Linked DNA regions of Homo sapiens: regions 2 and 3 are each linked to region 1. The links come from fine-mapping of genetic effects on gene expression. A gene starts in region 1. Each other region holds a variant in brackets. All regions are shown on one strand. Distances are between the middles of the regions. Region 1 holds the start of APMAP (adipocyte plasma membrane associated protein). Region 2 overlaps ACSS1 (acyl-CoA synthetase short chain family member 1). Region 3 has its middle 170 kb from the start of LINC02967.

Region 1 (7,363 bases):
CTCCACTGTCCCACCTGAATTAAAACTGGAGCTTCCCACCACGACATCCCACCACGACAGAACAACTTCCCTTGCAGCCCTTTTCCGAGTTGGCAGCGCCTTCTGTGCTTTCCTGGACTTGTGGGGAAGAAGGGGTTCAGCTACTTCCTGCTCTGCTTTGCCCTTTTCAGACTATTCTTTCTTTGCTAAAAATATTTATTTTTATTTTTTGTTTTTGTGGGTACATAACAGGCGTATATATTTGTGGCTATTCTTTCTGATCACTCAGTAACCCTGATGTCCATCCCTGATCATCACCCCCTTGTTTAACAATCCCTGGGCACCCCACTCATCCCTCTTAGCCTGTTTCTTGTCCTTCTCTATCCCCCAACCTCCCCCTCCCCCCGCCATTATAATCTTATTTATCTAAGTCCTGGTGCAAAGCCCCTTCCTCCAAGAAGACATCTCTGGTCAGTCCCATCTAATAGCACTTGTTCCTCCTTGCAGCCCCAAGGTACCCTGCAGCTCTTCTGCAGCAGTGCTTTATAGTGTCGTTCGTTACGCTTCCTCTCTCCCCTCCAAGATGATAACGCCTGTGCAGGCTGGATCACTGTATTTCACCCTTGTTTTGTCACCGCACTTGGCATCTGGCAGGCTTTCAGGAGATCTCTGTGGAAGGAGTTGAAACAGCATGGGACTGGGAAAAAGCACTGGACTAGAAGTAGGGTTTGCTTCTGGTTTGAGCTGCGAGGCATACTGTGGGCTCCCTGCCAGCATCATGCGCTTCTTCTTCCATGCTGGCAGAGCCTGCTTTTGTTGAGATAAATGCCCTCCACGTGGGCCAGTGTTCCGATGGAAGTGAGCCTCATCCCCAGTGCCAGGGTTGGGTGTGGGTTTTGGTTGGTCTCACTCAGCGCTTCTCAACCAAGGGCTGTTTTGTCCTCCAGGGGCTATCTGTCAATGTCTGGCAACATTTTTTATCATCACGACTAGGTGGGATGCTACTGCCATCTAGTGGGGGAAGCCCAGGGATGCTGCTGAAACACCAGCGCACAGGAGAGGCCCCCCTCCGCCTCCTAACAGAATTATCTGGCCCAAAATATCAGTGGTGCTGAGAAACCTGATCAAATTAATCATAGTGGTCCCATTCCTCTGCCAACAACTGGCATCAGCACGATGAGAAACAAAGTCGGTCTGGTTGGAAGGTGGGGTGGGAGAACTGATAACTGAAACAAATACAACAAGCAAAGCGTGCTTCACCGTGACTTGAAAACAGAAAAACTGTACTGAACCCGTGCTATGCAGCACAAATGATCTAGCTCAGACCACTGTAACACCAACTACCTACGTGCTTCATGATAAGCCCACGAGCTGACCTCCTGATAACTCCGAATGGACTTACATGTCCCAGAGCTAAGGCCACGGTTCCTCCAGTGACTCCCGTTGTTAACGGATTCTGACCAACCCTGGGCAAGACTATCGATGGACTAACTCCAGCCCCCAAACCCCACAAGGAGTCTCCCATGACTCCCCCATTTTGAGGAACCTCACCGGTCCTCTGGTGCATTTCTTTGCTGCAGCAAGTTCAGTAAACCCAACTTACTGCCATTATTTTTCTTCTGAATGTGTCCCTGGGTGTTTGCAGTGCGTGGGCTTTAACACTGGGCATGGAACACAAATAGCTCCAATGCAGTGAGTTCAATGTTATGGCTGGGACATGTTTAAAGTGCCTTGAAGACAAAGAGGAAGATGTTCTGCTTGGGAAACTGGGAGAAGAATTTTCAGCAAGGATACTTGAAGTGGGTCCTGAATGATAAAAATAATTGGCCAAGTGGAGGTGAAGGAGAGTGTATCACAGGAAGAAGGAACCTCAAGGACAAAGGCAGCCAGGCATGAGATTAGACATGTTAAGCCATCCTGAATGTCTGAAATGGGGGGTGGGGAGCAAGAGGGATAGTCCAGACAGGCAGGAAGGCGTGAGATCATACAGTACTTTGTTAACACTATCCCTGATTTAATAGCTGTATTGGCTATTCTCAATGACACAGAATGAAGTAAAATGTTGTCGAGGCCTGAATTATTACCTGGGATCTCTGGAGAACTGGATTTGCACAGCTCTCCACTTCCCTCAAGCTGGTTCTTCCGCTCTTTGAATGAATAAATAAAAAGCATTCACATGGAATTCTAGTGCCATCTAGCATTTAAAAAGGTAAAAGCCTCCAAGAGGAAATTATTTCTTAACACTGCATTTTGAACATGGCTTTTCCAGAGATAATTCCTCGTGCCACTGGTAACGGGCTTTGATTTCTTCTGCCTGTCACTTCCTCCAGATTCGATTCCTCTTTGAATCTCAAATGCTCTCACAAGATTCAGCTCTTCCCTTTTGAAGCAATTATTACGTTTGATAATTTTACGTCTATTTTATGATGATGATCTGATTAAAGTCATCTTTCCCACTAGTTTAATTTCTATAAGGAGGGGCCTTGTCTGTGATTTGCCCACCATCGTCTCCCAGCACCTGGGAACATTTCTGGTTTCCTGCAATACTGTTGAAAGAACAATGCCTCTCTATGCTTTCTTAAACTTTGTTAGTGATAATTTCTACTTCTACCTGGACTTTACTTAAGGGTAATCCTTAATAAACTTTATCAAAACTTAATAAACTTTATCAAAACTTAATAAACTTTATCAAATGTCTGTTGTAATCGTCACAAAAAGATTTAATACTCAACATCTGGCCTTAACCAGAGGGAAACATTTTCTAGCCCAAGTTTTCCCCTTAACCGGCTGAGTCGGGGAAGGATGTAATTTTCAGGCAGAGGTGACTTCGTTCCAAGGGTGTGAATGCATTATTTTTGACGCTGCCTGTAAGAGCAGGGTCGCTGACACTGAATAAACAGCGCTATCCTCTCCAACGATAAAAGTGGCCAACATCTCGTGCTAGCAATTCCCAAGTGCGTCATGAGCATCCCCGTCCTCAGAAACGTGAGACGAAGGCGGCATGCGCAGGCACTGGGCTAGACGAGCCCGAGGTTGAACCACTCGCGTTCTGGGCCCCGGAGTCCGAGACAGGCGGGGACCCCGGCAGCTCCCGGTGCTATCTCTGAGCGGGTTCCGAGCCCCACTTCCGGGCGGTCAGAATTAGCCTCAGAGCGCCGAGCAACGACGCGCCGGGGACCTCCCGCCCATGAGGCCGGAAGGGGCGGGGAGAACGCTGCGGAATGGTCCCTGGGCGCAACGTCATTTCCGCGTACGGGGGAGGGCGGGCCTGGAGTCTGAGCCGGCGCCGCTCAGTGTGAGGTGGTTTCTGCGGGTGAGGCTGGCGCCCGTACCATGAGCGAGGCGGACGGGCTGCGACAGCGCCGGCCCCTGCGGCCGCAGGTCGTCACAGACGATGATGGCCAGGCCCCGGAGGCTAAGGACGGCAGGTAGGGCGGACTCCCAGACTGGGCGCTGGAGCCGGGCCGCTAGGAGTGGAGGGCGACCCTCTTGGACAGCGGCGACGGCAGTAACAGTAACCTGGGGATGCGGTGCCGAGCGCGTTGTCAGAGTCCTCTCGTTTCATCCCCAAGAAAAACTCATTTTTCCGAGGAAGCAGGCTCCGACAAGGCGGATGTACCTGCCAGGTCTTTCAGGTTCGGGTGCACCCTGCGCCCAGTCGCCGCGTTGTCCTCGGCTCTCCGGACCCGAGACCGCCTCGCGCCGCTCCTTTGCCTTCCCTCCCTCACTCCTGCCCCACCCTGCATAGCGGTTGCTTCCTCGCCTTTCCCTCGCTCCCCTCGCGCTGTCCTTCCTTTGGCTTAAATGATCCCCCTGAGCACAGCTACTTGGCCGGGGCCCTGCGTGTTCCTGGTTCCCCGCTCGCAATTTCCCGAAGGGAGGAGGTCCCACGAGATGCTGGGGTCCTGCCTCGTTATCCGGCGAAGAGATGGCTTCTACACTTGCTCTTCTGCACCTGCCCCCCTCACGCTGCGTGACCAGTCCTCACCGCGGTTCTTGGAAAGAGTGGAGAACAGTAGTGACATTGTAGGCAATTTTTGTGAGAATTCAGCCTGGCAGTTTTTCCTGATAGGGATGGAGAAACATAGGAAACTGTAGTTGTTGACACCTAAGAAATATCAGGTTTTGCCCTTTGCCTCCTCTCCCATCTTTCAGAATATAAGAATGCTGTGTTTTGTTAGCTAAAAACTGAATCATGATTCGTAAGCATAGATTTCAATATAAGATACTTAAAATTCACTTTTCAATTCTGTGTCCTGAATTTCATAACTTTTAAGTTTCAGGGAGAATCAAGAGGCCCCATAGACCAAGCTTGAAGTTGTGGGACTGATTGACTTATATTTGATAGAAATACTGGAAATATTTGTTCATCAGTAGTGTGCCAAGAGGTGGTGGGGTACATATGAATGAGAGGCAGTTTTTGCCCCTGTAGACTGAGTTTATTGACTGATGATAAGAGGAACACATTTGAAGGAGAGCGATGGCAGGAAGGAGCATTTAGGCTCTAGAGAGGCAATTTAGAGAGAAGACTTTGCGGTGATAGTTGACTCCTTGGGCCAGTGAAAAGATCGGGAAGATGCTCCCATATATCCTGACCAACCATCCTGCGTTGCCCTGGACTGGGGTTTCCAAGGATGTAGAACTTTCAGTGCTAAACCTGGGCAAACTGGGACAATCTGATCACCCTACTTACTGTGAATATTGTGAATTAATCATCTGTTGATGATTGAGGAGCCATTTAGAATGGACATGCAAGAATTGGCAACACTTTCCTACAGAAATCTTGAAAACAAGGCATTTTTACCTGAGAAATGGAAGAGCAGTGGCCTGAGTTTGTCATTAGGTGCAGTGTGTTGAAAACCAGGGCCTACAGCCCCTGAGGGCACCGGTTAGGTAGTCCCAACTCTCAAGTTGGCTGGCTCACACTTCTGGCCCCAGGGCAAGCAGGCAGACTTAATTGTTTTTTTCAGGTTCTCTGTGGGGATTTCTTCCTTAATGAGTAAGTAAATCTGATTCTAAAGTCATCTTTTACTGCCTGATCTTTTCCAGTGTGCCTTTTACATTTATGTTTACTTATTTCCTTGACTTCCCTGTCCATGAACATTGTTCCTGTTTCCCTGTGTTTGTCCTTCTTGTTTGTTTATCCCTTTTCTGTATATCTGTAATGATCTCTTTCAAAGTGAGGTCTTGTCACCACCCTTCCTTTCCGCAATTATTATTGTAACATGGTAGCTGTTTTTCTTATTTTTCTTCTGCATTTCTCCTATATTTTTCATTTATTTTGTGGTCATTTCTAGTAGTTCATGTAATAGTATTCTTGATTACCTTAAAAGTCGAGGGTTCAACATAAGCCAGGAAAGCCTGTGTATAGTGGGCGAAGTAAAGGAATCTAAATTCAGAAGTAAAAACACGAAACTATTAGAATAAACTTTAGCACTTTAGATGTGCTAAATAGAATAAAGGAAGCCTTGAAAGACATATTACTAAACTGACAGAACTAAGACATAGATTTTAGCAGTGGTAGGGACCCCTAGTAATACGTTGGGTGGTCTCCCAACTCTTGGCACAAAAGGTGGGTGTTTGCTTTGTTTTGCTGATGAGATCATTGAGGTCTATGTGTGTGAGGTGGTTTATATGAAGTTACAGAGAATAGAGTCAAAAGAGAAATGAAAATGAATGAAGAAGGATAGAACTGGCAGCTGGACAATGACTGAGAAGTGTATTTTTAAAATTATGCTTTGGAAATAAGACTTTATGCCAAAGCTCTTGAATTACTGTATTTGAAATATAATGGAGAATTTGGTTGGTAAATTCTTTTATTCAGTGTGGAACATAGATGAGCTAAGTACTTTAACATACCGGTGCAAGCTTATAATTATTATTTGACATTGATTTCCCGAAATGCTTTAGAAACTTAATTGTACTCTGTGGAACTATTCCTTTCTGTTTGAAACACAGTTCTATCTAGGAAGAGAACTGTTTAATGTCCATATGTGACTGTTTAGGGATGCAGAATAAATACATTGAGGATTTAATATGTTTCAATACATTAAATTCTGTATAATTCTCCTTTTTCAATAAACTTCTGAAGGATTTTAGTTTAATTAAAAGTCTGCTAGGTCCATTTTCCTTTTTCCTCTTGGAGACTGAAGAGTAAGGGAGGAAGTATGGAGAAACAGATTGGGCATTCACGAATTCATGAGGAGTAAGGCAGCTGGAGTGTTTGTCTCAGCTTTGCCCCAGGTGTGTATTTTCAGATGGCTTTTTAAACTTGTTTCTTGATTTCTTAATTTTTTTCAAGGATAAATTGATGAATCTAGGAGCCCCAGTTTAAAGGATTGTGAAAAATGAACAAATTCAAGATGCTGTCACTAAAAAAGATGGGTTGATGCTATCTGATTTTCTCAGGTTCCAGGGATCACCTTGACACATGAGGTTGCTGGTACCCCATGGATTTGGGGCTATCAGGTTTTCCACAACAATCACAGGTGAATTTTGATCTCTTGGAGTCTGCTTGTTGGGACTTCAGTTCAGGACCCAAGGCCCTAATGTCCTGTGTGCAGAGTTAGAGGATACCCTTCAAAATCTGCCAAATTGGCTGGTGAATCTACAGAAGATTGTGTAAATCATGGCCCAGCCAACAGCAGTTGTCAAATCCTGTTGCATCACTGTGGTTGTGCTCTTGCCTTCAGAGAGTGTAGGCAATTTCAGGGTGCAGATGTCCTCATGGAGATGGGCATCCCTCCAGGCTCTTCCGAGAGATTGGGGCAAACAAACTGATTTCTCAAACTGCGCCTGGGAACTAAGTTGCCAGCGTTCCTGGATGTGTCAGCACAGGTTGGGAACCTGCAATGCTTTGTCAGTGAAAATGGATAGGGATCGATACAGTGTTCTTTATTTAAGTTAAAAAAAGAGTAAGAGGGAGGCAGACACCGAGAAAAGACAGAAGAATTGTGGTTAACTGTGAGTTTACAGGAAGCAACACTGATGAGGGCCTGCCGAAAAGTTAATGGACCTTGGGCTAAAATAAGTGTGGCACCCAGAGCAGGGGTCCAGGAGCTGTGCTTACCTCATTTATATAACAAGCTAACTCCATTTCAAGTGCTCAGGAACCACACATGGCTAGTAGCTATTGTATTTCCATCGTTGCAGAAAGTTCTATTGGACAGTGCAGCTCAAGGAGTTTTGTTTAAATTTAAGCTAGTATTTCTAATACGTGACCACAGAACTTTCCAGTGGAGGCTGGATGCTGATCAGGTGAGGTTGAGGAGGTGTTGGTGAAGTCTGACTGGGAAGGGAGCTGCATAGAGTTAGTGGTGTCCAGCTGCACATGAGGAACAACCGATGAAAGAGTTCGCAGGCCCACCCTGTACCTACCAAAGCA
Region 2 (7,363 bases), 53 kb before region 1:
ACAGGGGTGACCCTGAGAGACCAGGTGGGTGGGTGCTGCTGCCCCCAAAACCATTCATGGGGCTCATGTCCCTGCATACCTGGGGACCCTCCGATAAGCCAGTGAGTGAGGAGAGCTGGCTTGAGGGTTGCCAGAAGGGGCTCAGCTTTGGAATCTAATGAGTAGTGACCAGCCTGCCAGCGGAGGGGCCCCGTGCTGCTAATCCTCAGTCTCACGGTGTGCCACAGAGCTGTTTCTGCCGGAGGGTCATGTGTGGGAGCTTGGGTAATGGAGAGGGAGGGAGCAGAGCCTTCTGCAAAACCAGGACATTTCCCCATCACGAGCCACTTCTTGGAACAAGGCTGGTTTACTGGGTGCTCGTGGAACACGTGGGGGAGTTGGGTCCTCGTCCCTTCTTGCACCTTTAACCTTGGGGGCAGGTCAGCACTGGGCACATGGGAACTGCAGGAGCCAAGCCCTGAAACAGGAACAACCTGTTTGCACTGAGTGTTCTTTCCAACAGCTTAGGCTGCAGTGCCCAGCCCTGGCTGCACATCAGAACCAACCATGGGGGCTTTGAGGCTTTGAAGGCCCAGGACCCATTGGATGGGGTCTCTAGGGGTGGCCCAGGAGATGCCAATATGCAGCCAGGGTTGGGTCCACTGGTGTGAAGCAACCACTTCAAAATATTTGCAGGACATCACCTTGTACCTCTGAGATCATGTTTGTTCACCCTTCTCCTTGCAAGGGGGTAGAAACATCATCACTGATGAGGACAGGGTCTCTGTCAGTGGAAGAAGAGAGAGCCACAGCAAACTAGACCCGCTCCAACCCCTCAACCTGGCCGAATTCTCACTCAAAAAGCACCAAGTGTAACATCCGCAAACCCTCTTTTTGTACAGTCAACTGCTTGGACCAGCATGTTCGGAAGTCCCCCGAGAGCGTTGCTTTGATCTGGGAGCGCGATGAGCCTGGAACGGAAGTGAGGATCACCTACAGGTACTGTGCCCTCGAATGTTCAAGGTGCGAGGGAGGCGCCCAGCCCAGTCCTGTGTGCTGAGTCTGGCTGTCAGGGAGGGGCCGTCTGAGTCTCAGGGAGTGCATTTTGGCTTTGCAAGTGCTCTCTTATCCAGGAAAAGTAAATGTGAACGCAAGCAGAATGAAACACAGTAAAAGCCGGTCTAGCCTGCCTGGCCACACTCTCAGCGCCTTGTGAGGATGGGACAATAAATAAAATCATCTTTAGTAGAGTTGTTTTGTTTTTAAGCTGATCTTTTTAGTCTCTGATTCCTTAAGCAGATTCTATGTGCCAAGCATGCTTCAGATGCTGTGTGCTTTGGGCGGTCTGCACTGGCCTTCCCCAAGCTGCTTCCTGTAGGGGCTGCTGTGTTGGTGCAGCACCTTGGTTCTCCATGCAAACCCCGTTTGCCTGAAGCTCACCTTACCCTTACAGAGATGCCTCAGGCCCACTGTGCCCCTAAACTGTGAGTTCCTAAGTCCCCATCACACACAATCATCGAGCGTGATTACTCTCCTGGGGGCAGCTCCAGGGTCTTCTTGTCCAATTACTTAGCAAGTCTTCACTGGGTGCCTTCGTGTCAGTATGGGCTGCAGTATGTTGCAGTAACAGACAATCCCCAAGCACATGGCAGAGTGTGGCTGGGTGGCCACTGTGAGCTAATAGTCAGGAAGGCCTCTTGGAGGAGGCAACATTCCAGCTGAGGTCCTGTGGGCCAAGAGGAGCAGCCCTGAGAAGACAGGGGCAGACCTGGTGCAGGGATCCCAGAGGTAGAGGGAAGGTGCATGTGGCTGGGACACAGGAGCGAGGGGACGTGGAGGAGGAGCATTCCGACAGGCAGGTCCACACTGGGCAGCCTGAGAGCAGCGGTCACTGCCCTGCCACTCGGGTGACCTGGGGGCGAAGGGGCACTTGTAGTTTCCTGTTTGTTTCTTGAACTCCAATTTTATCACAGACCAAATTCACCAAACCTGCTAAAACCGTGCTCATGCTGACTTTTGGAGGCAGACGAGTGATGCTAGTGGATCTGCTGCGGCTCCCAGTGGGCCCTGTCCTGCTCGTTCCTCCCCTCGGCCCCCAGGAGCCCTCAGGCCCATCACAGCTCCACCAGCCTCGGCCAGGGCTCCTTTGCTGACCCGTCTCCCCCACCAGCCAGACTCACAGCCTATACAGCACGCATTTCTTATCTCTAGTCCCTGGTTGCAGATGCCGTGTGGCCCATAGGCCAGCAGCATTCTTCTGCCCTGGATCCTCGGGCCCCACTGGACAACTGAGCGGCCCCCCAGGTGGCCCCTGCACACTGGAGTGTGCTTGGCTCTGAAGACCCAAGCTGCTGCAGCTGCCCCTCGCCACGGTGGGCCCAGCTCCATCTGCCTGCGAACAAAGCCCCTTCTGAGAAGGAACTTGAGGCTGCTGCCCCTGGAGTAGTTCTTCAGTAAAAGATGAAAACCCTCTGTTGGGGGTCGGGGGCTAAGGAGCTAACTGGACACCTGGAGGTCCGGCAGGGAGGGCCCAGCCATGGCACTCCCCGAAGGGCCAGTTTCTCTCCATCAGTCTCTCAGGTGTGCCTGGACCCTGGGGCAGGCAGGTTGTGTGCCACGCCCCCTCGGCTGGACGCTGCCCGTGGGAGCACTGAGTGTGTGCTAAGTAGCGGTTCGGTCTGTGAGCGGGGCTGGAGCCCTGTGGAGACGTGTGGTTAAACATAAACCATGTGAGAATTCTCAGGACCACAGCCAGCCTGTGGAAGCTAAGGACAGCTTCAGGTCCATGACACTGAAATGGCCCTGGCAAAGTACTTATTACTCTGTCTCTAAAAATAAACAGGGGCCGGTCGCAGTGGCTCATGCCGGTAATCCCAGCACTTTGGGATGGTGAGGATCACTTGAGGACGGTGGGTGGATCGCTTGAGGTCAGGAGTTTGAGACCAACCTGGCCAACATGGTGAAACCCCGTCTCTACTAAAAATACAAAAATTAGTTGGGTGTGGTGATGTGCGCCTGTAGTCCCAGCTACTTGGGAGGCTGAAGCAGGAGAACTGCTTGAAACTGGGAGGTGGATGTTGCAGTGAGCCAAGATTGTGCCACTGCACTCCATCCTGGGTGACAGAGTCAGACTCCATCTCAAAAATAAAAATAAAAATAAAAATAAATTGACTTCTTCTAAAATGGTTTGCAGACTTTAGCCAGGCTTAGTACCAGGTGACCATTTCTATTTACTGTTTGAGTGAAAAGTGTTACCTGTAATTGCAGCTAGTATTTGAGGGATGTGAGTTCCTCATTGTCCTGGTCAGGCTAGGTTTCTGATGTGAGGTTTTCTTCTTCCTTTCTCTGAGGAAAGCCCCTAGACATTGGCACTGGTTGTCCTCCTGACAGACACATCACTGCCACTGAACACAGTGCTTTTCTGCCCATGGGCCTCGTGCCACAGCACTCGAGGTGCCTAGGATGGTTGCAGGCCTCCTCAGCTGGAAGATCAATGTCCAGACTAGCAGCCTGGGCCCTTTAAAGAAACCCCGTGGGGCTGGTAGAGGTTGGGAC[G/A]CTGGTGCCGATGCAGGAAGCTTGCAGGGTGTGAGGAAGTCTGTGTGTTACAATCCCAGGTGACCTGGCAAGGGAAACCTCCCGACTCTGGTCCCCACCGTGACCTTAGGCACAGGTGACGCTGGGTCAGCACAGGCAGATGCAGCCCTGGGACGGGTGCCCATGGCCTTTACCCTGCAAGTGGAGGATTTGCAATCCCTGCTTCCCCAGGTCCTCTGGGGTGCAGGGTCAGCAGAAAGAGGCCCGTTCTAGTTCTAGTTCAGTACCATCCTGCTGCTGGCCTGTGACCTTGTGCAGCTCCCTAATCTCCCCGGGTGTGACTTTCCCATCTGTACACCCAGGGTAATTATCACAATGGAGATGACTGTAAAGTAGGCACAGGGAGATGACAGCCCGAACGCACTAGCAAGTAAGAATAGCCGTGATAATGATGTAGCTGCTATTTATTGAGTACTCACTGGATTCTAGAGCTGTTTTCAGCATTGTAACTGGGCAGCGAGGTTGGACCTCGTGCTGGCTGGCTGCAGGGCTTGGAGAGGAGGACCCCCTCCCCTGCCGCGGTTTTGCCCCGCTTCCTCCTTCACAAATGCAGTCCTCAATTCCCACTGGGAGGTGAAGGGCTCAGCCTGGGACGTGTGCACCCATCTCCCAGGGCAGTCTGCCACCCGACTCCAGGGTCCCAGCTCCATTTCCAGCCTTCCTCTGCCCGGAGCCAGCTGAGGCAGCCCTTCTCCCCTGGTGAGCCAGCAGGCTGAAAGCCCAGAGCAGGACAGTGCCTGCCAGAGGCTGTAGGCCTAGTGGCCCCAAGGCTGTGGGGCCAGGCAGCACTCTGGGACGGCAGTGGCTCTTTCTGGCTGTTTACCTGCACTTCTCCAGCAGGTGCCCATTTTATTTTATTTTTAATTATTGATTTTTGAGGCAGGGGCTCAAAAATGTCACCCAGGCTGGAGTGTAGTGGTACTGTCACAACTCACTGTAGCCTTGACCTCCCGGGCTCAAGTGATTCTCCTGCCTCAGCCTCCCAATAGCTTGGTGTGTGCCACCAAGCCTAAGCTTTTTATTTTTTGTAGAGATGGAGTCTCGCTATGCTGCCCAGGTTGGTCTGGAACTCCTGGGTTGGAGTGACTGCCCACCTTGGCCTCCCAAGTACTGGGATTGCAGGTGTGAGCCACCGCGCCTGGCCGGTGCCTGTTTTAGAAGACTGTCCTTCACACTGTAGTTCACATGGGCAGGTTCTAGAGACCCTGGGGGGTGGCCATGTGGAGAAATGCAAGTTCCTCTCTTTCGGAAAAGCGGTGGCCCAGGTAGATGAATGAGGCTTTGAGATGGCTGCTGCCTAGCTGGTGTGTTTCTCCCTGCCTGGAGCCTGGAGCCTGGGGTCTGGGCCAGGAATTCCCAGGCTAGGGTTGGACTCCAGGTGCAGGAAGCAGCCTGAGGCCCTGTGCAGGTCCAGATCTTCTCAGCCAGCAGGGTATGCCCCCACACAGAGGAGAGAGTGGACTGTGGGTGCCAGGCTGGGGGTGCCTGCAGAGCCTCCAAATCAGTGAACCTCTTCTCTGAGGGTCTCTGTAGGGGGGTGTGAACTTAAACTTGAACTTAAATGAGAGCATCTTAAGCCAGAGGACCAAGTTTTAGCTCCGGCTTGTCCTATGGCCTTGGACCCATCCCTCTGGGCTTTGGTGTCCTCATCTGTAAAAGGAGGGATTCAATGGCCCCAGTATTCCAGCCCTGGCAGGCGTGCATGAAGCACGGAGGAGCAGAGCTGGGCCCCGAGTCTGTGAGGAAGCACAGGCATCGTGTGCCACTCTGGGAGCTGTTCCCCCGTGGAAACTCCTGCTGGTGGGGGTGATTTCTGTGGCTGTTCCTTCCTGGCCTTTTTATTGGGTGGGGTCGTGCACAGTGAGAAACCCCTGACCAGAGAAGCAGAGGGGATGTCAGGCCTCCCCCAACCCCACCTACCTCAGAGTCCCAGGAAGCTGAGGGAGGTTTTCTCCCTGGGTGTGCTGTGCTGGGCTGGGCATGGGGCTTTACTGCGAATCTGTGAGGCCTGGCACCTGATGCGGAGGCCTGCAGGGCTGTGCATGACAGGGCCTGGCCGTTCACCCTAGGCAGAGGGAGCTGCCACACACTCCAGCTGTGGTGGGGTGGGGACTGAGCCTGGGGCCACCTCTCTGAGAGGCTTGTTTCTGTTGTCAGCCCTGGATGTCTTCGAACACAGCCATTTAGGGAGGTCACAGAAGTGGCTGGTCCCTTGGGGGGAGCAGGAAGCAGGAAGTCCTGTCACAGACACTTAGGTGGAGAAGGCTTTGTGGAGGGTTGAGTTTTGAGAGGCAGAGGAAGGGGAAGTGTGGCGAAGGCAGGAGTGGGGGACTGGTGAGGACATGGCACGGGGAGGAGCCAGGGTCTGGGAAGTGGTGGAGGCGGGAGGCTGTGCCCTGCCTGCCCTGTCCCTGGCAGGGGGAGGGGCCAGGGCCCAGGACCTGGTGGAGGCAGGAGGCTGTGCTCTGCCCAGCCTGACCCTGGCTGTGGACCTAGAGCCTGTCACTCCACCTCTCCCACCCTTGGTTTTCTCATTTGCAAAATGCAGTCACACTTCTCCTCCACTGGGCTGCTGGGCGTGGAGAGGGGCATGTGGGATGAAAACCAGAGGGGTGTCTGGAGGATGAGGGTCCGTTTCAGCTGCAGGTCAGGGCCAGGTGAAGGAAGGCCAGCAAAGGGTTTCAGATTTGAAGAAGGGCAGGACATGGGTGGCCCCATGGCTGCTGGGGCCGAGAGTGGGTGGGTGGTGATTTCAGGGGTGACGGTACTCAGCGGGACTTTGCCTGGGAGGACACGTACATCAGCTAAAGTGTGCCCCCTCCCCATGTCCCTAGTGGGTGACCCTTGCCCCTTGCTCTTCTGCTCACCTCCCAAGTTAATTACCCTAGTGAGCACACTCCCTTATTAAAACATCAGGGCAGCTGGGGGAGGATCCTAACTCACGGGAGGCTGTGGGGGAACAGCCTCGTTGACCCGTGTGTGACACAGCGGCTGTCGTGGAAGGCAAACTCGGTGTGGTCTGTGGGGCTCCCATGGTGGGGTGAGGCGTGGAGTCCCGGCCTAGCTGCCCCACCTGAGAGGAGGGTGCCCGGGCAGCCTCTGAGACTTGGGCTGGGACCCTTGGTCTGGAATCTGCACGCTACAGCCAGAATCTGATAGGATCCCATGTTACTCGGGGTGGGCTGTTTTTGAAGCAGCATCCACCTTTCCTCCAGCCCCAGGCTGCGGCTGCTGCCACTGGAATATTTGGGGTCTTCCTACGCACGCTGCCTGTGCTCCCTTGCGTTCTCCTGGGTGCCGAGGTCCTGGCACGTCGTAGTTTAGAGAGGCCCCATCTTCAGACTGCAGCACAGTGACCCACACTGAGGGAGTTTATGTCCACAGAGACCTCTTTGTTGGGGACAGGACCTTTCTGAGAATTCTCTGGGGCGACCACAGGCAATTCTAGGCCAGCGGGTGGGTTGTGGAACCTGACTGGGCTGACACCTGGGCTCCACAACCCACTGTTAGGGCAGGAGGATCCCACCTGTACCTTCTTGGATCCCAGGCCACTCGAATGGAGTCTGGCGTCCTTCCTCCTCATGCAGGTGACCAAACCCTCAAAGTCACTCCAGTGTGCAAAGGCCTTTGGCCACCACAGCTGTTCAAAATCTGCTGTAACTAACAGGCTCTGGTCTTCACCCTGATGTATTTATTCCACCCACGGTGGCCCATCTCATGTGGATTCCCAGTAGGCCAGCCCGTTTTCAACAAGAACAGTCTTCTATCTTCACATTAGAAACCCATTAGA
Region 3 (7,363 bases), 250 kb after region 1:
TCCCTCCCCCACTTTTTTGATTGTGTGGGATCTATGCTGCCTGAGCTCCAGACCCTCCCACGGGCCATCACCCAGGCTGGGTTCCAGGGGCGACTCTATCTTCAGTGCCCACCAGTCCCTGAATGGGTGTCTCTCTCATCAGCTCGCTCGTCTGAGGCTTAGTGTTTAGTAGATTCCTCAGGAAATGTTCACGGGAATGATCTTTGCTGAGTTGTTACATACTGATAATAGTCTATACATGGCCTTTATCATTAAAGTCAGTTTTGCTGGATATGAAATTCTTGGCTAACATTTTCTTTCCTTGAGTATTCTAATGCATTTATTTATTTATTTATTTATTTATTTATTTATTTTCTGGCACACAGTGTTGCTGTTGAAAAGTTTGATGATAATTTGCTTTCTTCTCGTTACAAGTCATTTGCTCTTTTTGCCTGAATGCTCAAAAGATTTTTTTTCTTTTCTTTACAGTTTAATAATTTTACTAGGATATGTTTTGGCATTGCTTGTTCTGGGTTGATAATCGTTTCTCCTGCTTTGATTGTCTTTCTCAGGCTCCTAATTTCTTTATATTAGATTTCCTTTGTCTATCTTTCATATTTGCCACTTTCTCTCAGTCTTTTCATCTCTGGACTCGTGTTTTTCAGTTTTTACAAATTTCCTCTTTTTGCCTTCTATTTTTCTATGGCATTATCCCTTGTGTGTATTTGGTGTTATGTTCCTTTCATTTTAATCATTACCTCTGCAATAATTTTCTTTTATTTCAAATTCTCTAGAGTTTTGTTACCTTATTTATGAATTCTCCCAAAGTCATTTAAGAGTGTTCATGTCATGTGGTGTTCCTAATGTCTTTTAGTTTATATTGAAATAATAGATGATAGCTCTGATTTTTGTGGTCCCATTTGTCAGGCAAGTTTTGATTGTTAGTAGGAAAGGTTTTCTGCTGCTTCGTCTCTTTTTCTTGTGTTAATTTTGTATTTTGTGTCGTATTGAACCTCAATGCACTTCTGTTGCTCAATTTTTATGTGAAATGGTTTTCCTGATATTTTAGAAGGAGACTGATTGCAGGGGAGGATTTTTAACTCTGCAGAGCTCTCTCTTCCGCACTTTCCTTGTAGTATTAAGAACAGGGTGGTCTGCCCTCTGAGGTGTCCTGGGTGGGTTCCCCTCCCCACTTCAGGTTTGATATGGGGATCTTGCTCAATTTTGATTTTTCTCACCCAATCTCTCCTCAGTGTGGGCTCTGTCCTGGCTGGGAGCCCAGACAGGCCAGTTTGAAGGATCCACGGCCCAGCAGGCTCACACTTGTACTTGCTGAAGCATTAGACAAATGCTAGGCTTCAACTGCTGTTTCCAAATCACCCCCATGCCCTCTGCCTTTTGGAGGCTCTGTTTCCAGGTGCGAGGGTTGTCTCCTGTTTCCTTCTGCTGCTCCCACACTATCTGGTTGGGGGCTCGTGGGTGTTTGTCCCACCCACTTGAATGTTGGGTTGCTGTCCACGAGTTTTGGATTTCACTGTCAAGTTGTTCTGGGCATTAAGGCTTCCATAGCAACATGACACAGGCCTGGTAGCAAAAGCAACAGAAATCTATTGTGTCACAGTTCTGGAGGCTCAAGTCCCAGGTCCAGGTGTGGGCAGGGCTGGTTTCTCATGAGGACTCTCTCCTTGGCTTGCTGCACCTCCCGTGGCCTTCCCTCTGTGCATGCACATCTGAGTATCTCTCTGTGCCCAAAGTTCCTCTTCTTATGAGGACATCAACAAGGTGGATTAGGACCCACTCTAATGACCCCACATTAAGTCAATCACCACTTTAAAGGCTCTATTTCCAAATACAGAGCCCATTCTGAGGTACTGGGAATTAGGGCTTAAACATATGAATGTTGCAGGGAGGCCATTCAGCCCATAGCATGCCATCTATTTTTAGGGGGAGGTTTAGGGAGGGTAAGCACTCTGTCACTGCTGCCACTTTTTCCCAGAATTTCCCTTTCTTGTACCCGAGTGAGCCAGAGAAGGGACACTCACCACCCCCGGATGTGGGTCCCTTTGTAGCACCTGCCCTTAACAGCTGGAGTGCCTGACGTTGCAGAGCTGCCTGCTGCACTAAAGCACAGACCCTCTGCAGCAGGGACTCTGCCTGTCCCGTTGTCACTGCATCCACAGCAGCAGTAGCTGGTTCATGGCAGGTGCTCAACACATTGCCAAGGAGTAAACACGCAGCGGGAGTGCGTGCAGAGCAACGAACACAGCCTGAGAGATAGGAGCCGTGTGTTCAAGTCCAGCTCTGCCCGGACCCTGGTTTGTGCCTTTGAGTGAATCACCTGAAGTCTTTTCCCACCACCTGTGATGGCTGAGGGGATCAGGTTGGTCATATTCCTTACCTCTGGGCTCATGTTCCTTACCTCAGTGTGGGCATATGTGCATGCTGCCTGAAGAGGGACTGCTGAAGTAGCACAGTCCACAAAGTAGAAATCTCTTGTTTTACTTTCTCTGCAATTAAAAGTGACAGCAGGAGTCAGCAGCATCCAGAAGGGTCAGAGGTCACTGCTTCTTACCAGCATCAACAGCTTCTGACAAGGGCACTGCCTTACTCTCAGGCCACTGACTGGAAAAGAGGCCTTGGCTGTGATAAGGGCTCTGGGAGTGTTTTAGAGAAATACAGTTTTCAGGAAAGAACGGAGCTCTTGTAAGACACAGATCCTAGGGAGGCAGCTGAGGACTAAAATCATTGACTAGAAAGATGAGAGAAAGAGGGCTGGTCTTTTCCACACCATTTATTTGATTCTTGCTTGCACCCACCATTTATTTATCACCGCAGCTGTTTTCTGGCCCTCGCCACATACATGTGTGGTTGCCCTCACATCTCCATCTGTGAAATTTATCCACGACCTTATTAAAAAGAAACTTAAATCAGGATCAACAAATTTCAGTTCATTTTAATGCTAATTTGTTAAAAAGAAAGGGAATCTTAGCTGTGGCTACGTTGGGAGTTGAGTCCGAGAGCTTGGACCCGGAGTTCAACGGTGAGGTGTTCAGAGCCGTGGCCATGGCCTGCAGAGCCCTGCTCTGGAGCACAACCTCCCCGGGACTGTGCAGGTGGGAGAAGGAGCAAGGCGGAGTTTCCTCGCCCTCCTGCGGTTTGGCCCTGGGCCAGGGTCTGCAATGCAGGTTGGGGAATCCTCACTGCCCAGGAGCCCTGAACAAAAGGAACCTGGGAGGCTGGGGCGTGGCACGGGCTGGCATGGGAAAAGCGCTGAGTCAGACTGTGGAATACGCCTTAGCCAACGCCCCCGGTGAGGAGGCCTGGAGGGAGGTGCCTGGGTGAGGACTGCAGATGCCTACAGGATCGTGGCTGAGTCCTTGACTCCCTGCAGAGACTTCCTGGCATGGGCTTGGCACAGGTCTGGGGGGGGGGAAGGCAGCTTTCCCTGTTGGGCCTGC[C/T]GGGCAAAGGCTTGTCAGTGCCTGGGGCCCCCTCCTGAAGGATCACACGTAGGACTGTGGCTGGGAGTGGCCTCCTCAGTCTCCACCCCAGCCTTGGGCCCGATGACTGTGGCTAGTGCACTGGAGGTAGACACCACCTGGCCCCCAAGAATGGCTGGTGAACCCTGACCTTCCCGTAAAGGACCACGTAGGCACGGTAGGACTGCAGGCTGCCTCTCTGTTGCCAAACACCATCTAGGAGGAGCTGGAGGGTTTCCATTCCCATCCGACTGTGGGACCGGTCTTCTTTGCTTCAGTTCCATGTTTCTCAGAGCTGTGACCCACGTCAGCAGTTTTGCCAGCTCTCCTGTAAAACTCTTGGTTTTGTTTTCCTTAGTCTTTAATCTCATGCCAGGGTCTCAAGCCTGGTGCACAATAGAATCACCGGGAGCCTTAAACGATATTGACAGCCAGGTCCCTGCCCTGGAGGTCCTGGAGTGAGTCTCTGCATGCATCCCCCAGGGGATTGGAACGTACAGCCAGGTGGTGCCACTGCCCCAAAGAAAAGGCACATTCGCCACCAGGTTTCAGAGCCAGCTCTAAAGGGGACTGAACACGTGTAAAAGTAGCCCTTTCTGGGGATTTGAGGCATAAACCAGTTGTTTCCTTGGCCAAGAGCAGGGTGAAAACCAGGAGGAATATGCACTGAATAGGACTTGCTAAGAGGCTTTGAAAACCTGGACAGGCTCTTCAGGATCTCCGGACGTCCTGTGTATCCCACCCACAGGGCCTGGCATGCGCTTGGCTGGCACCAAGTTCTTCATAATGAGAGGCAAATGGTTAGAAAGATAAAGCAAAATAAGCTTGCAAAGAAAAATAAAAGCAATGAAGAAACAAAGGTGGCCACGCTGGGGCCTTTGCAGATGCTGGAATAGCGGGCACTTTGGTTTAAAACAGCAATTTTTCAGCTTCAGTGCCCACAGAGTCTGCTGGAGGGCGTGTTCAGAGGCTGCAGTCCTCACCCCCAGAGATGCTGACTTCCTGAGTCCAGGGAGGGGTCTGACATCCTGCATTTCCAACAAGTTTTCAGACAATGTCAATGTTTCTGGGGGTCTTCGGGCAATGCGTTAACACTGGTCAAATGACCAAGATAAAGCAACTTCAGAGAAAATCAGTGAGAAAACAGAAAAGAAACAAAGGTACTTTTGGCTAAAACCCACCATATGGAATATTAGATTCCTTTGATTCTAATTCCCCTGCACCTGGGCCCTGATTGCAGCAGAAGTTTGCTATATTCAGGCATTGGCACTGGCTATGACTGAAACCCAGGGTTTCTGGGTGGGTCCCAGTATGCAAATTCAAGGCAATCTATAATTTTCTCTAATCTAGGAAGTGCTGTGCGAATGCTGCCTGCTTTCCTCCTGGCCAGAGCTGGTGCTTAAGGTCTGAGAACCTGGCAGCCTAGACTAAGGTCGCACCTGAGATTTCCCCAGATAAATGATCTCCTGCGCTGGTGTGGTCCTAGGCTGCCTTGGAGCTCACACAGCCCCATGGCGCTCAAGGATTGCAACCCACAGGGATTCATCAAATGCTTAACTGTGGCCAACTTCAGTGTTCCCAACCTGTACCCTGGGCAAGACTCTTGGAGGAAATATTAGTAAGAATGGCCTGAAAAAGTCTGGAAAAGTTGTACATGGCATCATCGTCTTGCGGTTTAGCAATTTAAAGGCCCTGAGAAGTCCTGTAGTGAAGAAACTTGCTTAACATATGGAAATGGATGCCTTCCATAACTTGTTTGAGCATGAACCATGTTCTGAGCATTTCTTTTTTTCTTTTTTCTTTTTTTCTGAGACGGAGTCTCACTCTGTCACCCAGACTGGATTGCAGTGGCGTGATCTCGGCTCATTGCAAGCTCCGCCTCCCGGGTTCACGCCATTCTCCTGCCTTAGCCTCCCGAGTAGCTGGGACTACAGGCACCCGCCACCGCGCCTGGCTAATTTTTTGTATTTTTTAATAGAGACAGGGTTCCACCGTGTTAGCCGGAATGGTCTCGATCTCCTGACCTCATGATCCACTCGCCTCGGCCTCCCAAAGTGCTACTATTGGGATCTCAAGGAACTCACTCTTCATGAGATAGCAGTGTGGGAGATGTACACAGATCCCACAGCCCAGGAGGAGGGGAAAGAGGATATCGAGTCTTCCCGGTCTCAGAGAGCAGATCCTCAGTGTTCTGTGAGGCCCCACAGAGTCAAAGCCTCCTAGAGGACGCAGGCAGGCAAACAGGTGTCTCCTGGGTGAGGGACCCTGTCCGTGCCCAGTTCCCAAGACACACTTGCTCCCTTGTTATTCACAGACGCCCTCCTTTATCCACAGGGATTTAGACCTGCTTCTCTGTGGAGTATCAAAGATTCAAAATACCCACCATGTGGCCTCAACTCCGGGTCTTGTGGCTTGCTGCCTGGGAGAGTTGGCATTAAAACCAAATGAGGTAATGAGTTCAAAGCTGCATGGCTCAAAGCAAGCATCAGGATCACCTGGGAGCTTGTGGTCCACACAGAATCCCAGGCTTGCTCCAGACCTGCTGAGCCAGAACCTGTCCTGGAGTGAGACTCCCAGGAGTGTAGAGGCACATTCGAGTTTGAAAAGGCACTGTTTTGCAAGTAAATAGAAATTAAAATAAAAGTGATATGTTAAAGGGTTGATTCGCAATCCTGGCTGCACTTTGGAATCACCCAGGGAGCTTTAAAAATCCTCAACTGCCCTGCCCCCAATTCTAATTTAATTGGAATGGAAGTAATCTGGACTAGGGGAGTTTAAAAGCTCTGTGGGTGATTGTAATGTGCAGCAAACAGCTTTAAAGGTATTAGGGTCTTCAGCGCATAGAGGTGGTGGTGGGGGGGTGGTGTCCCAGTACCTGGTATGGTGCCTGGCCTGTGGCGGGCACAAAACTGTTCATGGAAGAACCACCTCACTGCTGCATGGAGTGCATTCGAGGACTCTGAATCACATGGAGGATGGGCAGGAGGTCCCGCTGAGATCTGGATGGATGGAGGACAGAGAAACATGCAGAAACACTTCATCCCACTGTGAGAGTGTGGTCCAATGCCAGGGTCCCAGTGGTGGAGGCAGCCTGATGGTCACACTGCCTTTCAGGTGGCCTCCTGGTCTCCAGCAGCCCATGGCATGCACAGCCCACCCTGCGATGCTGAACTGGTGGGTGCGGTGGAGCCAAGGCCATTGTAATAGGTGGTTATTATTTTGAGTTTTTTTTTTTAAATCTGATAGACTGTAACCCAGTTATAGATGAATGAGAGGCCATGGTTTCAGGACAGGATACCAAGCGCCATCAGGTCTACAAGGAGCCACCTGTGCCCTGTGAAGGGTGTGAGCACCATCAGGTCCACAAGCAGCCACCTGTGCCCTTTGAAGGGTGGGAGCGGAATGCCTTGGAGTTCTCAGGAACAGGGGACCCCTCCTCCAAGGTGGCTGCTTCTAGGAACACTCTCCACGCTGTGCTGTGTGTCTGTGTGAGCTGATGGGCTGGGGGCATGGGTGGGGCAGGCAGCTGGAGATAGAGCCCTGGGCAGGTCTTGCCACAGGCTGCCTACCCATCCCCAGCTCTCAGGCCTGAGTGACTTTTTAAAAGTAAAAGGACAGCAGCCACAGACACCTTGCGATGGGCCATCAGCCTTCAGCCAGCCTCGGAGGCTGCAGCAGCAGAACTGGGAAGCGGAAGGGGTGAGCGACTCCACCTCGGGGCAGGGTGCCCTGCCAAAGTCTCCCTCTGAGAAGCGCCTTCAAGTGCCTTCTCTTTGATAAAAGACTATAAGGTTGGCAGAAAACCAAAATACATTTTCTCCTTCAAATACGTCTGAGGCTCATGGCCAATAAGTCCCAGGTCCCTGTCAGGCTGGTGAGCATGTGCATGGAACTGGCTGTGGTCAGGG

Evidence for each region.
Region 2: its variant is fine-mapped to the expression of APMAP in whole blood (TOPMed, PIP above 0.99).
Region 3: its variant is fine-mapped to the expression of APMAP in esophagus mucosa (GTEx, PIP above 0.99).

The regions. Positions count from the first base shown.
Region 1 is chr20:24,988,638-24,996,000 of GRCh38, reverse strand. APMAP (adipocyte plasma membrane associated protein) reads left to right here and starts at 3,250. Exons shown (of 9, transcript NM_020531.3): 1 at 3,250-3,407. The coding sequence starts at 3,313. RefSeq lists enhancers at 2,696-3,196, 3,109-3,348, 3,479-3,558, 3,579-3,638, 3,197-3,697 and 1 more.
Region 2 is chr20:25,041,700-25,049,062 of GRCh38, reverse strand. ACSS1 (acyl-CoA synthetase short chain family member 1) reads left to right here. Exons shown (of 14, transcript NM_032501.4): 2 at 882-978. Among named protein-coding and RNA genes, the nearest start is that of ACSS1, 13 kb to the left of the region's middle. RefSeq lists an enhancer at 5,678-5,827 and a silencer at 5,978-6,037. The variant G/A (reference allele first, on the strand shown) is at 3,535.
Region 3 is chr20:24,742,351-24,749,713 of GRCh38, reverse strand. No RefSeq gene overlaps it. Among named protein-coding and RNA genes, the nearest start is that of LINC02967, 170 kb to the left of the region's middle. RefSeq lists enhancers at 1,686-2,185, 2,186-2,687, 6,417-7,317. The variant C/T (reference allele first, on the strand shown) is at 3,438.